Regions from separate parts of the Homo sapiens genome. Here region 2 is linked to region 1. The links come from fine-mapping of genetic effects on plasma protein levels. A gene starts in region 1. The other region holds a variant in brackets. All regions are shown on one strand. Distances are between the middles of the regions.

Region 1 (8,328 bases):
TGAAACCCCATCTCTACTAAAAATACAAAAATTAGCCAGGCGTGGTGGTGGGCACCTGTAATCCCAGCTACTCAGGAGGATGAGGCAGGAGAATTGCTTGAACCTGGGAGGCGGAGATTGCAGTGAGCCGAGATGGCGCCACTGCACTCCAAGCTGGGCGACAGAGGGAGACACGATCTTAAAAAAAAAAAGAGAGAGAGAGAGAGAAAGAAAAATTGTGTTTCACGGAGCTTTCAATTTCCAATTTTCTTGTGGTGAACGAGATTCAGTTTCATAAGCAGTTGTATTTTTTTTATTTATTTATTTTTTTAAGACAGACTCTCTCTCTGTCTCTCAGGCTGGAGTGCAGTGGCCAGATCTCAGCTCACGACAACCTCCGCCTCCCGGGTTCAGGCGATTCTCCTGACTCAGCCTCCCGAGATAGCTGGGACTACAGGTGTCCGCCACCACGCCCAGCTAATTTTTGTATTTTTAGTAGAGACGGGGTTTCACCATATTGGCCAGGCTGGGCTTGAACTCCTGACCTTGTGATCCGCCCGCCTCGGCCTCCCAAAGTGCTGAGATTACAGGTGTGAGCCACTGCGCCCGGCCAAGCAGTTGTATTTATTTTTATGAGTTGGCTGCTCCTGTCTCATTTTGGGATTTTCCTAAGACACCTCGGCCTCCCAAAGTGCTGAGATTACATGTATGAGCCACCCCACCCCATCTCTCTTTCCCCCATCTTTTAGAAGGTATTAGTTATTTCTTAATGATATGAATCTAAACTATTTATATCTTAAGCTGATAAAAAGATCAGCTAAGTAAATATTAAATAAATTAAGGTAGGAGATTGTCTTGAAGGTGCTGTCTACCCGCTTCCCCCAGACCTGGAGTCCTAGGGCTTCCGTGAAGGAAATCCCTTTAGTACTTGGGGATCTCAGGGAGGATATTTTGATTTCTGGATACCTCAAAATTCTGGACCTCTTTGACCACCCTCTTCACCCACCCAGCAAATGCTATAGGCTCAGGCTCTGAAATCTCCCATTTTTATCTCCTTTCAATTTTTTGCTTTTTGTTGGTAATTTTGCTGTTTCAAACAGCCCCCAAATAGTGCTGAAGCCCTGTCTAATGTCCCCCAAGAGCAAGGAGGCCGTGATGAGCCTCACAGAGGAGGAAATCCACGTGTTAGAGAAGCTATCCCCAGGCACGAGTTCTAGCGCTGTTGGCTGTGAGTTTGCTGCTGATGACACTGACTTCTTGATGATTCATAGCCAGAGGCCCTTGGGACCCTAACTGTATGTATATACAGACATATTTTTCTTTCCATTTGAGAGCAGGTAATGTTTATTGAACAGCTTAGAAAAATAATTATAGTACACACCATAGTTCATTCTTCTAACAAGCCTGTTGATCTGGTCCTCCCTGTTGCCAGCATCTCCACCTTCCACGAAATGGGTGGTCTGTTTCTTCATTCTGCCTCATGGAGAAGATACTTTGAAGGACCACAGGAAGTTATGTGCTTCTTTGAAGCGTTTTCCAACAGTATGGACCTCATGAATCACATCCTCCATACAGATGATGCCATATTTTCCAAGAGATCGTGCAAAGCGTTATCTGTCAAAGCAATTCGTTTCTTATTGATTTTGCCATAACCACGCTTGTAGATTAGTTTATTTACTGACTTCAGATTTAGGTACCCGCATGCAATGTATGGCTCTACAATCCTCAGCATGTTAATTGGCCTTCACAAAGGTTCCATTGAAGATTTGACAAAGGCAAAGAAGCTGCAACACATTTCGGACCTTTGGGCTCACACCATCGATACCTCTGATCCTGATGACAAACGCCAGTCTGGATTCTGCAGGTTCATAGAAGTTGCCAGCTTTTCTTGACATCTTTTCCATTCGAATTTCAGTTCTGTACCTCTGCCTATATTCCTTGTGATAGTGCTTCAATTTTTCATAGATAAGCTTCCTCCTTGCCTTTCGAAGCATCTTTTGGGCAAACTTCTTTCTCAGGCGCTTGGTCTTCAGCTCTGTGAAATTCCTTCGCTTTTTCTTAGGGGTTTCTGGCACAGCGGGAACTTCCTTCTTCTTCTCTTCTACACCCTCCATGGTTCCAGCCGGAAAAAGAGGCTGGATCCTCTTTTTAAAAAATATATATATTTTTAAGACAGAGTCTCGCTCTGTCACCCAGGCTGGAGTGCAATGGTGTGATCTCGGCTCACTGCAACCTCTGCCTCCCGGGTTTGAGCGATTCTCCTGCCTCAGCTTCCTGAGTAGCTGGGATTAAAGGTGCCCACCACCACACCCAGCTATTTTTTGAATTTTTAGTAGAGATGGGGTTCCACCATGTTGGCCAGGCTGGTCTCCAACTCTTTTTTTTTTTTTTTTGAGACGGAGTCTCACTCTGTCACCCAGGCTGGAGTTCAGTGGCGTGATCTCGGCTCACTGCAAGCTCCACCTCCCGGGTTCACGCCATTCTCCTGCCTCAGCCTCCTGAGTAGCTGGGACTACAGGCGCCCGCCACCATGCCCGGCTAATTTTTTGTATTTTTAGTAGAGACGGGGGTTTCACCGTGTTAGCCAGGAGGGTCTCAAACTCCTGATATCAAGTGATCCGCCTGCCTCAGCCTCCCAAAGTGCTGGGATTACAGGCGTGAGCCACTGCGCCTGGCTCCTTCTTGGTGTTTCTTGACTTTCATCTGCCTCATTCAGTTTCTGTTTCTGTTTTCACACGGCTCCTTCTCTATGAGCCTCTTTTCTCTCCACCTGAGGGCCCACTCTAATCCAGTATGACCTCATTTAAGCCTAATTATATCTGCAAAAAAAACCCCGTAATTTCAAAATGAGGTCATATTCTGCAGTTCCAGGAGGCCATGAATTCTGGGAGGACACCGTTAACCCACTACAGCCATCGAGAACAGCAGCAGGAGGCTGGATGCGGTGGCTCACACCTGTCATCCCGGCACTTTGGGGGACCTACGCAGCAGGATCGCTTGAGCCCAGATGTTTGAGACCAGCCTGGTAACATAGTAACACCCTATCCTCTACCCCCCCCAAAAAAAAAATTAGCCGGGCATGGTAGCGTGTGCTGGTAGACCCAACTATGCAAAAGGCTGAGATGGGAGGGTCACTGAAGCCCAGGAGTTTGAGGCTGCTGTGAGCTGTGTGGCGCCACTGCATCCAGCCTGGGCAACAGAGCAACACTCTGTCTCTAAAAATATTAATTTAGGCCGGGCGCGGCGGCTCACGCCTGTAATCCCAGCACTTTGGGAGGCCAAGGCGGGCAGATCACGAGGTCAGGAGATGGAGACCATCCTCGCTAACATGGTGAAAACCCATCTCTACTAAAAATACAAAAAGTTAGCCGGGCGTGGTGGCGGGCGCCTGTAGTCCCAGCTACTTGAGAGGCTGAGGCAGGAGAATGGCGTGAACCCGGGAGGCGGAGCTTGCAGTGAGCCGAGATGGCGCCACTGCACTCCAGCCTGGGCGACAGAGCGAGACTCTGTCTCAAAAAAAAAAAAAATAAATAATAAAATAAAATAAAAATAAAAAATAAAAATATTAACTTAATTTAACTTTAAACAAAAAAGCAGGTGGTCTCCAAGAATGCAGGAGATAACTGACCGGGTGCAGTGTCTCATGCCTTTAATCCCAGCACTTTGGAAGGCCAAGGCGGGTGGATCACCCAAGGTCAGGAGTTCAAGTCCAGCCTGGCCAACATGGTGAAACCCCATCTCTACTAAAAATACAAAAAATTAGCCAGGCATGGTGGCGCGCGCATGTTACTCCCAGCTACTCGCGAGGCTCAGACAGGAGAATCGCTTGAACCCAGGAGATCGAGGTTGCGGCGAGCTGAGATGGCGCCACTGCACTCCAGCCTGGGTGACAGAGGGAGACCTCCGTCTCAAAAACAAAACAAATCAAAAAAATGCAGGAGAGGGGTACACGAATATTTGGGGAGCACCCCCAATTCTTGGATGTCTGCTGTATCCCCAGTGCACAGCACAATCTAATCCCTAATAAATGTGCAGTGGAGGTTTGTTGAATAAATGAATGGGCCCCAGAAGAATGAGGTGGAGAGGGGAATAGGAAGATTGAATGTCTCCTGCCTGAAGGTCGGGCGGGGAGGGGTTGGGGGCAGGCAACTCTGAGGCTCACCCGGGGCCACTGCCTGCATCCTGGCAACTGCCTCCACCCACTTTAGGATCTTCAGACTGGCAGCGGTTGGAGGGAATTTCCCCTCGCCAATTGCTCAAGTCCCTCCCCTCGACCGGCCGGACATCCCCAGAGAGGGGCAGGCTGGTCCCCTGACAGGTTGAAGCAAGTAGACGCCCAGGAGCCCCGGGAGGGGGCTGCAGTTTCCTTCCTTCCTTCTCGGCAGCGCTCCGCGCCCCCATCGCCCCTCCTGCGCTAGCGGAGGTGATCGCCGCGGCGATGCCGGAGGAGGGTTCGGGCTGCTCGGTGCGGCGCAGGCCCTATGGGTGCGTCCTGCGGGCTGCTTTGGTCCCATTGGTCGCGGGCTTGGTGATCTGCCTCGTGGTGTGCATCCAGCGCTTCGCACAGGCTCAGCAGCAGCTGCCGCTCGAGTCACTTGGGGTGAGTTGAGATGGAAAAGTTGGGAAGAAAACATAGAGAGGCGCGTGACCGAAAAGACAGAATGAGATGGGTACAAAGAGGCCAGAGAGGAAGATCTGGTAGGGCAGAGACAGAGACCAGAACAGGGAGGCGAGGCGGGGACCAGGCTGCCCGGTGTAGGGGCTACGAGACAGGCAGCCCTGCCAGGAGGTACAGGGAGATCCCGGGATGGGAAAGGTAGGCACACATGGAAATGGAAGATGACTCGGCTCTGGTGTTCCCCCGGCAGGCTGACTCAGAGGCTGCTGGGGGCTTCACAAGGCTGGGCGTGGGGGCTTCCTGGGGCCTCCTAGGACGGGATGGCCCCAGCCACTCGCTCCGGGTGGGGGAGGGGTCCCTTTGGGGACCGCGCCGGGCGCCTTTGCAGCGTAGAGAGTCCGCTGCGCGCGGTGCTCTCGCGCCCAGTGACATCCAGGAAAACGATTCGGGAAACGAAGAAGTTCTTTTGAAGGTCTCGACTTCACGTTCCCCGCTGGTTCAGACCTGCTTCCTCTTTAAGAAGTCTTAAGAGTAAAAAAAAATAAAATGAAATAAAATCACCAGTGCGCGCCGTGGGATGAGAGGTGGAAAGGAGGATGGACAGAGAAAAGAGAGCTCCTGGCACAGGGGACACATAGAACCTCTCTGCTTACGTCCGTGCCCTGTTTTCTGGTCTTTTCTTCCAGTGGGACGTAGCTGAGCTGCAGCTGAATCACACAGGTAACACGGGGGACGTGGAGGGACGGGGAGAAGAAGAGGCACAGAGAGAGAAGGAAGGAGAGGTAGAAAGACAAGTGGGGAGAGACAGAGAGAAAGAGACACAGACAGAGACGGAGGGAGAGAGGGAGGGAGAGATAGGGAGGGAAACGGAGAGGGGGAGACAGAGAGAAGACAGAGAGGGAGGGAGAGGCCCAGAGAAAGGGAGGGAGAGACAGAAAAAAGAACAGAGAGAGGGACAGAGGGGACAGACGGGACAGGAGAAGAAGGGGAAAGAAAGAAACAGGGAGAGACGCAGGGAGAGTGGAAGAGGGAGGGAGGGAGACAGGCGGGGGAGACAGAACGAGAGAGAGGGAGAGAGACGGAGAAAGAGAAAAAAGACAGATAGAGGAAGAGAGAATAAAAACGAGAGAGGCGACCTGGCGTGGTTGCTGGAGCCTGTAATCCCAGCGCTTTCGGAGGGCGCGGCGGGTGGATCACTTGAGCCCAGGAGTTTGAGACCAGCCTGGCCAACATGGTGAAACCCCGTCTCTACTAAAATTACAAAAATTAGCCGGGTGTGGTGGCAGGCACCTGTAATCCCAGCTACTCAGGAGGCCGAGGCAGGAGAATCGCCTGAACCTGGGAGGCAGAAGTTGCAGTGAGCCAAGATAATGGCACTGCTCTCCAGCCTGGGTGACAGAGGGAGATTCTGTCAAATAAATAAATAAAAAGAAGAAAGGAAAAGAAAAAGAAAGAAAGGAAGGAAGGAAAAGAAAGAGAAGAAGGAAGGAAGGAGAGAGGGAGGGAGGTGAGAGAGAGAGAAAGGAAAAAGAAAGAAGAAAGAGAAAAAAAGAAATAAGAGAAAGAAAAGAAAGAAAGCCAGAGAGAGGAAAAGAGAAGGAGAATAACAGAGAGGAAGAGACAGAGACAGAGAGGGGGAAGAAGAAAAACAGGGCGGGGGAGAAAGAGATCATTCCCAAGAGAAAAAGGAAAAGGGAGAGAACGAGAGAGAGAGAGAGGAGAGAGAGAGCGAGCAGGTTTGTGTTTCTGGGCATCCACTACCTTTCTCTCCCTTTCCCTCTCAGTCCTTCACATTCGATCTCCTCCCTTGGAAGAATCAAAGGGGTTTTGTTAGTAAACGAAAACGCTCACAGGAAAGGCTACCCTTCCTCCATTCATGCTACAAGCACTAATTATACATCTGCAGTGGGCAGGCACTGTTCCGGTACTGCAGTCGCGCACAAAACAGACAGAAATCCCTGCCTGGTGAGCTTCCCTTCTACTATCACTCCTACCGAGGAGGAGATGACCAAAAAAATAAAAACGAACATGTGAAAAACAGAGCAATGCCACGTAGAGTAAAACAGGCCAAGAGCAGGTTTTAGAGAAAAAATCAGGCAAGGAGGTGGGTGGGGAATCCGGGCATGCCAGGGTTGGGGATTTTCATTTAAAGTGGAGTCGCGGCGGTCGGGTGGGGGGGTGGTATCTGAGTGGGTGGCATTGGCAAGAAGCCTTGAGGGAGAAGAAATGAACAGTTCTGCTCTAGGTGGAAGTCTCTACCTCCTCCCAGCCTCTCTCGAACGCTTCTTCCTCTTCTGTTTTTCCACGGTTCATCCCCAGAGACTAAAATTACTGCACGCTTGCGTGTTTTGTTCCTTCCATTTTGTAATGGAAGGGACCTTTGTTGCTCTCTCTTCTCCTTGGGTCTCTGACCCCTGATATATCTTCCCCCCCTCCCCGGCCTTTGCCATATTTTTCCTGTAATTTGGTCTTGAGGCCCCTTTCTGGAGAGTGGCTGTCCAGCCCCACATCGATGGGGCACCAGGGGTGGTGGCCACAGGTGTTGACAGTGTCTTTCACAGGACAGCTCTTTCTTCTGGTGGATGATATCATGCCTAAGTGTGTGACAGGGGACCAGGTGTCACTCTTACAGGAAATTTGCAAAGCCTGGTAAACACCCTTGGGGCTCCTGTTTGACCCCGTTCAGTTCCTTCCTAACAAGATAGCCAGTCTCCAGGAGAGCCTTGAGTGAGGAGGAGAGTGAGGCTCAGGTGTGTCAGTCAGATAAGTTGCGGAGACAGGAGACGCTGAGATGAAACACGTGAAATATAGCCGAGGACCTTGGCTCCCGGCTGTGATCCCAGCGCTTTGGGAGGCTGAGGTGGGAGGATCGCTTGAGCCCAGGAGTTCTAGACTATGTTTCTTGGGAAACATAGCAAGACCACCATCTCTAGAACAAAATTTTGAAAATTAGCTGGTCATGGTGGCGCATGCCACCTCCCAGTGACTCGGGAGGCTGAGGTGGGAGATAGCTTGAGCCCCAGAGGCTGAGGCTGCAGTGAGCTATGATTGCACCACTGCACTCCAGCCTGGGTGACAGGACCAGACCCTGTCTCTAAAGAAAATAAAGATCCTAGAGAGAAGAGGGCCAACGGGAAGGTAGGGGAGCTCTCTGAGACACACACTCAACCAGCGGGTGGAAAGCAAGAAAAAAAAAGGGTCCTGGGAGCCAAAGCTTTTATTGGCGTTCAGGGTGTGACCCGAGCAGGCGTCCCTTGGGGAATTCTCTCGTGCACTCTCTTGCGCGCTGTCTCGTGCGCACGCTGTCTCTCTCGTGCTGTCTGTCTCACTCTCTCAGGCACTCTCTCGCTCACTCCCGTGCACTCTCGAGCTCTGTAGCTCTCATCCTCTCTCACACACACACTCTCCCATGCACTCTCTCGAGCTCACTCTCACACTCTGTCTCGTGCACTCTCTCTCAAGCTCTCTCGTCCTCTCTCACACACACACTCTCTCTCTTGCTCTCTCTCTCATGCTGTCTCTCGTACTCTCTCCTGCTCTCTCGTGCTCTCTCTCACTCTCTCGTGCACTCTCCCTCAAGCTCTCTCGTCCTCTCTCTCACACTCTCTCGCTGTCTCATGCTCTCTCTCCCTCATGATCTCTCTCTCTCTCATGCTGTCTCTTGCACTCTCTCCTGCTCTCTCGTGCTCTCTCGCACTCTCTCGTGCACTCTCCCTCAAGCTCTCTCGTCC
Region 2 (8,328 bases), 17 kb before region 1:
TGAGGCAGGAGAATGGCATGAACCTGGGAGACGGAGCTTGCAGTGAGCCGAGATCACGCCACTGCACTCCAGCCTGGGCAAGAGAGCAAGACTCCGTCTCAAAAAAGAAAAAAAATTAGCCAGGTGTGGTGGTACACACCCATAATCCCAGCTACTCAGGAGGCTGAGGCAGGAGAATGGCATGAACCCGGGAGGCAGAGGTTACAGTGAGCTGAGAGCACACCACTGCAGTCCAGCTTGGGCGAAAAGAGCCAGACTCCATCTCAAAAAAAAAAAAAAATCACCAACATATTTTCTATCTCTGGTTTCTCAAAAACTAAGGATTACTTACCTTATTAAATCTTCACATACCCCTACTGAATCCCTGGGTAGATGCGTTCTCTCTGTTTACTAACCAAAATATTAAATATAATCATTGCAACTCTCTCTTATGTCTTCCAGTGGTCAGAAGTGTATCATAGCATTTCATATTTATCTTATCTTTGTAACCTGCATTTTTACCAGTTCAATATAATTTTCACATATTGATTGCTAAAGAGTGAAATGAAGGAATTAGGTTAAAATGTTTTTATTGGAAACTATCATGTCAAGTACCTTTTTTTTTTTTTTTTTTTTTGAGACAGAGCCTCACTCTGTCACCCAGGCTGGAGTGCAGTAGTGCGATCTCGGCTCACTGCAACCTCTGCCTCCCGGTCTCAAGCGATTCTCCCACCTCAGCCTCTCAAGTAGCTGGGACTACGGGAGTGTGCCACCTCACCCAAGGAATTTTTGTATTTTTCTTTTTTGTAGAGACAGGATTTCACCATGTTGCCCAATGTGGTGAAGTACTTTTAATGTGGAAATTTCCAATAGCCATATGAGTTTGGGCATATCTCAGAAAGTCAGCAAACAGTGAGATCAAGCAAAAAGACGGAGTAGAAAGCTCTGGGAGCCCCTCCCTCCAGTGAAATAAACAGTGAACTGAGGGGCAGGAGACACAGAATCAATGATTTCAGAACTAGTCATCCTGTTGCAGCACTTATAATAATGAGAGGAGTGCTTGATGAAAAGAGAGACTGAGACTTTAGAAAGAGAACAGCCTTCACAAACCAGCCCCCACTCCCCATTCCTCCGTCCGAGTGGGGCAATTTGGAGACAGTCCATTTTCCTCAAACAGGTGACCAGTGCCAGAGCAGGCAGTTGAGACCTTGGCCTCCAAAATTTGGGGAATTTGCACTCTACTAGGTCTGGCAATTCCTGAGAAGCCAATAAGATGCTTGTTTTGGCTCTCTTGAGTCCCTTCGTATCCCTCAGACTTAGAGGTTCGATGCCTTGTAAAATCTTTGTCATGTTACTAACTGACCACAAAATGGAAAAGACACTTCAGTGATCACACCCAAAGGATACACAGTTGCCAAAAAACAGTCGGGAAAAGTCAGAAATGAATAGTTTCAGCCTTCAGTAAGCAGAAATCAGCAATCCATGAAGACTTGGAGCATCGGAGTTCCAGACTTATGAATCATAATACTCAGGATGTCCAGTTGTAATTACAAAGCATAAAGACATAGGAAAGTATAACTCATTTACAATAAACCATGATTTAACATATACTGTTACTAGGGAAGCCCACACATTGAAACTATTAGTCAAAGACATTAAATCAACTGTCTCCAATGTGTTCAGTGAGATGAAGGAAAATATGGACAAAGAACTAAAGCAGATCATGAGAATGATATATGAAAGAAGTGAGAATGTCAATAGAAAGAAATAAATTATTAAAAATTCACAAACAGGAATTCTGGAGCTGAAAGTTACAATAATGGAGGTGATAATTCATTAGACGAATTCAAGAACAGATTTGAGTAGGTAGAAAAAAGATCAACAAACTTGAAGATAAGGCAACCATAAAGTTAGCAAATCCAAGAAGCAGGGGAAAAAAGTGAAGACAAATACACAGAGCCGGCCGGGTGCGGTGGGATGTTAACAATGGGATTGTTTGTGGAGCAGGGGGCTCTAGGGGTGTGTGGGAACTTTTTGTATTTTCTGCTCAATTTTGCTGCGAAACTAAAACTGCTCTAAAAAGACTTTTTTTTTTTTTTTTTTTTTTTGAGACGGAGCTTCACTCTTGTTGCCTAGGCTGGAGTGCAATGGAGCGATCTTGGCTTACCGCAACCTCCACCTCCCAGGTTCAAGCAATTCTCCTGCCTCAGCCTCCCAAGTTGCTGGGATTACAGGCATGAGCCACCACACCCATAAAAGCCTATTTTTTAAAAAGTTTTGACTAGTACCTTTTCCCCATTACACCTCTGTCCCACTCATCCTTTAAAATGTATTTTGACTGTGATATCAGCTGGGGCATGACTTCAGAGGAAAAGGTATTGTATAAAAGGAACTCTGGAGTCAAAATAAAGTTTGAGTTTTGAATTTTGGCTTTGCTTTATTTATTTATTTTTATTTATTTATTTATTTTTCTTTTTGAGACAGAGTCTCACTCTGTCACCTAGGCTGGAGTGCAGTGGCACGATCTCAGCTCACTGCAACCTCCGCCTCCTGGTTTCAAGTGATTCTCATGTCTTGGCCTCCCAAGTAGCTGGGATTACAGGCACCCGCCCCCATGCCTGGCTAATTTTTGTATTTTTAGTAGAGATAGGGTTTCACCATGTTGGCCAGGCTTGTCTCGAACTCCTGACCTCAAGTGATCAGCCTGCCTCAGCCTCCCAAAGTTTTGGGATTACAGGCGTGAGCTACCACGCCTGGCCAGCTTTTACCTTTAATAAGGTACTTAACCTTTTTAAAACCTAAGTTTTCTTATCATTGTTCACTGTGTCCTTTCATATACGTACGTTATGGAAATATCTATGGATTGTTTTTAAAATTCTAGTTGTTGCTGAAAATTCACAAAAGGCATCTCAAGATAATACTACTTATCTCCCAGGGCTGTTGGAATATTAACTGAGACCATTTTGTTGCTGTTGTTTTTGTTTGTTTTTTGAGACCATATTTATTTTTAAAATAAAAACAGAATGCAAGAAAGTTGGCCTGACACAAATGGGAACTCATCAAATGCAATCTCCAAGAGGGTAGGAACTTTGATTTCTGCACTATTGTATTAATACCTTGGAAACAGCAGGAACTCAGAAATATATGTTCAGTAATTTTAAAAAAAAAAAAAAGCTTGGCTAGGCTACTGAATGATCACAGACCACATGGAAAGAAAAAGAGGCTTGATGCCATTACAGGTGGGACTATGGAGTTCTCTCTTGGAGGGGTGACTGTATTTTGCAAGCAGGAAGGAGCATGAGCTGAGTTTCTGTGATCAAATGGGTGGGTTTTGATAGCGATTCGTGTTCTCCACCTAGTATTTTCAGCTTTCTTTCTGACTCTTGCAAGCATGCCACTTCCCTGCACCCACTAAAGTTAAGCAGGGTCACTGACACGCTTTGGTTAGTGAAAAGGGACTGGCAATGATGTGTATCCATCTGTGGTTTTCTACTTTACACTCCTAGCACAAGGGTCATGTCAAGATGAAAACCGTCTAGGCATGAGCCACAGCGCCTGGCTGGAACATCAGTTTTACTGCAAGATTTGGAAGAAACAAATTGAATTGATTACCAAGAGAATGTGCAAGAACTATTAAGTCTTAGGACACATGGCCAAGACCAAAAGTCTCTGGTGATGGGCTGGGGTGGGGCCCCGTCCCACAGCCCTCGGACCAAGTAAGAAGAAAAAGTAGGAGGGGGAGGTGGCTTATGCCTCTAATCCCTGCACTGTGGGATTAGCTGGGTGTGGTGCCTCATGCCTGTAATGTCAGCTACTCAGGAGGCTGAGGCAGGAGAATTGCATGAACCCAGGAGGTGGAGGTTGCAGAGAGCCAAGATTGTGCCACTGCACTCCAGCCTGGGCGACAGAGTGAGACTCCTACTAATAAATAAATAAAAGAAAAACTAAGTTAAAATTTGTAAGGGCATAAAACATAATTTTAATAGGAAGCTATGAGAATTATCTACACTTGCAGATAATTGAATGAGCTGAGTTATCTGATGATTGATTGAATGATCGAATTATAGGTAACTGTGATTTTTCTTTTTTTTTTTTGAGATGGAGTTTTGCTCTTGTCACCCAAACTAGAGTACAGTGGCAAGATCTCGGCTCACTGCAACCTCTGTCTCCCAGATTCAAGCGATTCTCCTGCCCGCCACCACGTCTGGCTAATTTTGGAATTTTTAGTAGAGATATGGTTTCACCATGTTGGCCAGGCTAGTCTC[G/A]AACCCCTGACCTCAGGTGATCCTCCCGCCTCGGCCTCCCGAAGTGCTGGGATTACTGGCATGAGCCACTGCGCCTGGCCTTTGCTACTTAATTTTATAAGACATCTACTTTTTCAAATATTTGCTGTTTTTGCTCTCATGATATGAAAATTTTTTTATTGTGAGGGAGCATTTCTATGAAAACAATAGTAGAAATTTGTGCCAATTTTGGTTATTAAAATAATAAAATTGTTGGGTTAGTTTGTTATTCTTAACCAAATGCTCCTACAGATAGCATATTGCACAGATGGTTTGATTGTTTTTTTTTCATCTTAGGTGAATTTTCCTTAATTTTATTCATCAAACTGTATTTACTTGAGATAAATAGACATTGTAGTTACTGTGTGCTCTACAGATCTCTACTTTTTTAAAAATAAAAATTCTCGGCCAGGCGCGGTGGCTCACGCGTGTAATCCCAGCAGTTTGGGAGGCTGAGGTGGGTGGATCAGAAGGTCAGGAGTTCAAGACCAACCTGGCAAAGATGGCAAAACCCCATCTCTACTAAAAACACAAAAAATTAGACAGGCGAGGTGGCGCAAGCCTGTAATCCCAGCTACTCGGGAGGCTGAGGCAGGAGAATCGCTTGAACCTGGGAGGCAGAGGTTGCGGTGAGCCAAGATTGCACCACTGCACTCCAGCCTGGGCAACAGGGCAAGACTCGGTCTCAAAAAAAAAAAAAAATTCTCAGTCAAAACTCTGACCTATTTTATAAAAATTTGGATTGTAAATACTACTTCGACGTAACTTATATGTACATTAATGATTAGTAAGTGGAGTAATTCTATTCTTTAAAGGGGGGAAGTCTATATGAGTGTATTAATTTGTCAAAATGGTACAGTTCAGATTGTACCTTTCAATATGTATACATTTTATCTAAAAAGAAAACCCAAAAAACTAATAAATTGGGGGGTAGGAAATGGGTCAAAGTATAGATGAAGCAAACATGGCATGACTAGTAGCTGTTCAACCTGGGTGACAAGTCTATTATACTATCTTTGTATTCTGTATATATTTTTGTTTTTTGAGATGAAGTCTGGCTCTCGTCACCCAGGCTGGAGTGCAGTGGCATGATCTCAGCTCATTGCAACCTCCGCCTCCCAGGTCCAAGCAATTCTCAAGCCTCAGCCTCCTGAGTAGCTGGGACTGCAATTGCACATGACCACGCCTGGCTAATTTTTGAATTTTTAGTAGAGAGGGAGTTTCACCATGTTGGCCAGGCTGGTCTCGAACTCCTGACCTCAGGTGATCTGCCCGCCTCGGACTCCCAAAGTTCTGGGATTACAGGCGTGAGCCACTGTACCTGGCCTGTATTTTGTGTAGGTTTTTAATGTTTGGTGACAAAACACTTGTTGAAAATGAAAAAAAAAAAATTAGTCGGGCATGGTGCCGTGCACCTGTGGTCCCAGCTATTTGGGGGACTAAATAGGAGGATTACTTGAACCCAGGAAGCAGAAGTTGCATTAAGCCGAGATTGTGCTACGGCTCTGCACCCTGAACAACAGAGTGAGGCCCTGTCTCAACAAAAAAAAAAAAAAAAAAGGAAGAAGCCTATTTCAGCCTACCATGGGCAGAACCCCTTGCTGATCTGAATGTTGTGTGAGTAGAAAATAAACTTTTTTTTTAAGTGAAATAAGTTTAGTAAGAAAGTAAAGGAATAGGCCAGGAGTGTTAGCCTCACAGCTGTAATCCCAGCACTTTGGGAGGCCAAGGGGGGCAGATCACCTGAGGTCAGGAGATCGAGACCAGCCTGGCCAAAATGGTGAAACCCCATGTCTACTAAAAATACAAACAATTAGCCGGGTGTGGTGGCAGGCACCTGTAATCTCTGCTACTCTGGTGGCTGAGGCAGGAGAATCACTTGAGCCCAGGAGGCAAAGGTTGCAGTGAGCTGAGATCGCGCCATTGAACTCCAGCCTGGGCAACAAGAGCAAAACTCCGTCTCAAACAAACAAACAAACAAACAAACACAAAACAGAAAGTAAAGGAGTAAAGAATGGCCACTCCATAGGCAGAGCAGCCCTAAATACACCTTTATTGTGTAAAGTCTGGCCAGGGGTGGTGGCTCACGCCTGGAATCCCAACAATTTGGAAGGCCAAGGTGGGAGTATCACTTGAGGCCAAGAGTTCAGGACCAGCCTGAGCAACATAGCAAGAGCCCATCTCTCCAAAAACTTTTAAAATTAGCTGAATGTGAGGCCGGGCGCGGTGGCTCACGCCTATAATCCCAGCACTTTGAGAGGCCAAGGCAGGCGGATCACGAGGTCAGGAGATCGAGACCATCCTGGCTAACACAGTGAAACCCCGTCTCTACTAAAAACACAAAAAAATTAGCCGGGCGAGGTGGCGGGCACCTGTGGTTCCAGCTACTCGGAAGGCTGAGGCAGGAGAACGGCGTGAACCCGGGAGGCGGAGCTGGCAGTGAGCCGACATTGCACCACTGCACTCTAGCCTGGGCAACATAGCAAGACTCCAACTCAAAAAAAAAAAATAGCTGAGTGTGGTGGTGCATGCCTGTAGTCCCACCTTCTCAGGAAGCTGAGACAGGAGGATCACTCAAGCCCAGGAACTGGAGGCTGCAGGGAGCTATGATTGCACCACTGCTCTCCAGCCTGGGCGACAGAGTAAGACCCTGTCTCCAAAAGCAGTAATAATAATAAATAAATAATAATAAGAGGCCGGGCGCAGTAGCTCACACCTGTAATCCCAGCACTGTGGGAGGCCAAGGCGGGCACATTATTTGAGGTCAGGAGTTTGAGACCAGCCTGGCCAACATGGTGAAACCCTGTCTCTACTAAAAATACAAAAAAATTAGCTGGGCATAATGGCAGGCTCCTGTAGTCCCAGCTACTTGGGAGGCTGAGGCATGAGAATCACTTGACCCTGGGAGGCGGAGGTTGCAGTGAGCCCAGGCCACTGCACTCCAGCCTGGGCAACAGAGTGAGTCTCTTTCTCAGATTAATAATAGCAACAGTCGTAGTGATACAGGAGGTAGAAAGAAATTATTTAGGCAGATAGTGAAGGCAGCAGAGTCCTCGGCAGAGCTTCCCTTCTAACAAAAAGCAGCCCCCAAATCATTTCTTTTCTAACAAGCAGCAGCCTGAAAAATTGAGCTGCAAACATAGATAGGCACAGCTGGAAGCTTACACGGGAGAATGCCGGCAGGTGCGCCAATAGAAGAGAGCTACCCAGGGGCCAGGCAGGCCCTACATGGACGCTTCCTCTTCCCTTTTATGTTACCACGCGTGCAGTAACAGAAATGGGCAACATGGCGCAGCTCGGGCAGAGAACCTGCCTGCATAATAAAAGATTAGGGTCAGAGGCTACCAGAAATTTGCACCCTATGCAAATGCGACACATGGTCTAACCAGTTTTTCACACCCTATATAAATCAAACACCGTTTGCTCACTAGCTTCTCTATAAAACCCCCTACATTTCCCCGCTGATACGGCAACCCATTTTTCCGGGACCCCTCTCTGCAGCAGAGAGCTCTCCTCTTTCTTTCGCCTATGAAACTTCCATTCTCGACCTCACTCTTTCTATGTCTATGTCCTTGTTTTCCTTGGCTGTGAGACTGTGAACCTCGGGTGTTACTCCAGACAAGGAGGCCGTTTCAGTAGTAGCAATGATAGTAATAGTTCTCACCAGTTCCTTACTACGTACTGGCTCTTTGCTAAACAGTTTACAAATATTAATTCCTTCCAACCTCATAGCAAGCCTGTGAGATACTTTTATTACTTCCAGGGAACTGAGGCACAGAGAGGTTAAATCACTTGCTGCAGGTCACACAGCTGGTAAGTGTTGGAGCCAGAATGCAAATTTGGGCTGCAAGACCAGAATGAAGGTGGAAAAAAATGAAGCAGATTGTAGAAGTGTAGGGTTGGATCTGATCTTTAAAACATCTTTGCAATTTGTTCATCATGAATTTTTTTGACCTTCACTTTTTAGATTTTTTTTAAAATGTTGCCTGAGAATATCATTTATTTTGACAATGACAGTTTGAGATGCCCCCTTGAAATTTGCACTTGAGGCACAAAATTCTGTTAC

Alleles and levels. Positions count from the first base shown, and alleles are read on the strand shown. Strength reflects both the effect of a copy and how common the allele is.
For the plasma level of the protein whose gene starts at base 4,270 in region 1, allele A in region 2 goes with a higher level than allele G (moderate association).

What was found. PIP is the chance, under the fine-mapping model, that this variant and not a neighbour inherited with it causes the effect. The UK Biobank Pharma Proteomics Project read protein levels with antibody pairs (Olink). The fine-mapping took linkage between variants from a reference panel, not from the people measured, so its PIPs are less certain.
Region 2: its variant is fine-mapped to the plasma level of the CD70 protein (UK Biobank, PIP 0.93).

Annotation. Positions count from the first base shown.
Region 1 is chr19:6,587,092-6,595,419 of GRCh38, reverse strand. It overlaps CD70 (CD70 molecule), which reads left to right and starts at 4,270. Exons shown (of 3, transcript NM_001252.5): 1 at 4,270-4,579; 2 at 5,284-5,317. The coding sequence starts at 4,418. It also overlaps the pseudogene RPL7P50. RefSeq lists enhancers at 2,451-2,550, 2,571-3,030, 4,101-4,500, 5,001-5,370, 6,549-6,628 and 2 more.
Region 2 is chr19:6,604,279-6,612,606 of GRCh38, reverse strand. No RefSeq gene overlaps it. Among named protein-coding and RNA genes, the nearest start is that of CD70, 17 kb to the right of the region's middle. RefSeq lists an enhancer at 3,490-3,599. The variant G/A (reference allele first, on the strand shown) is at 4,245.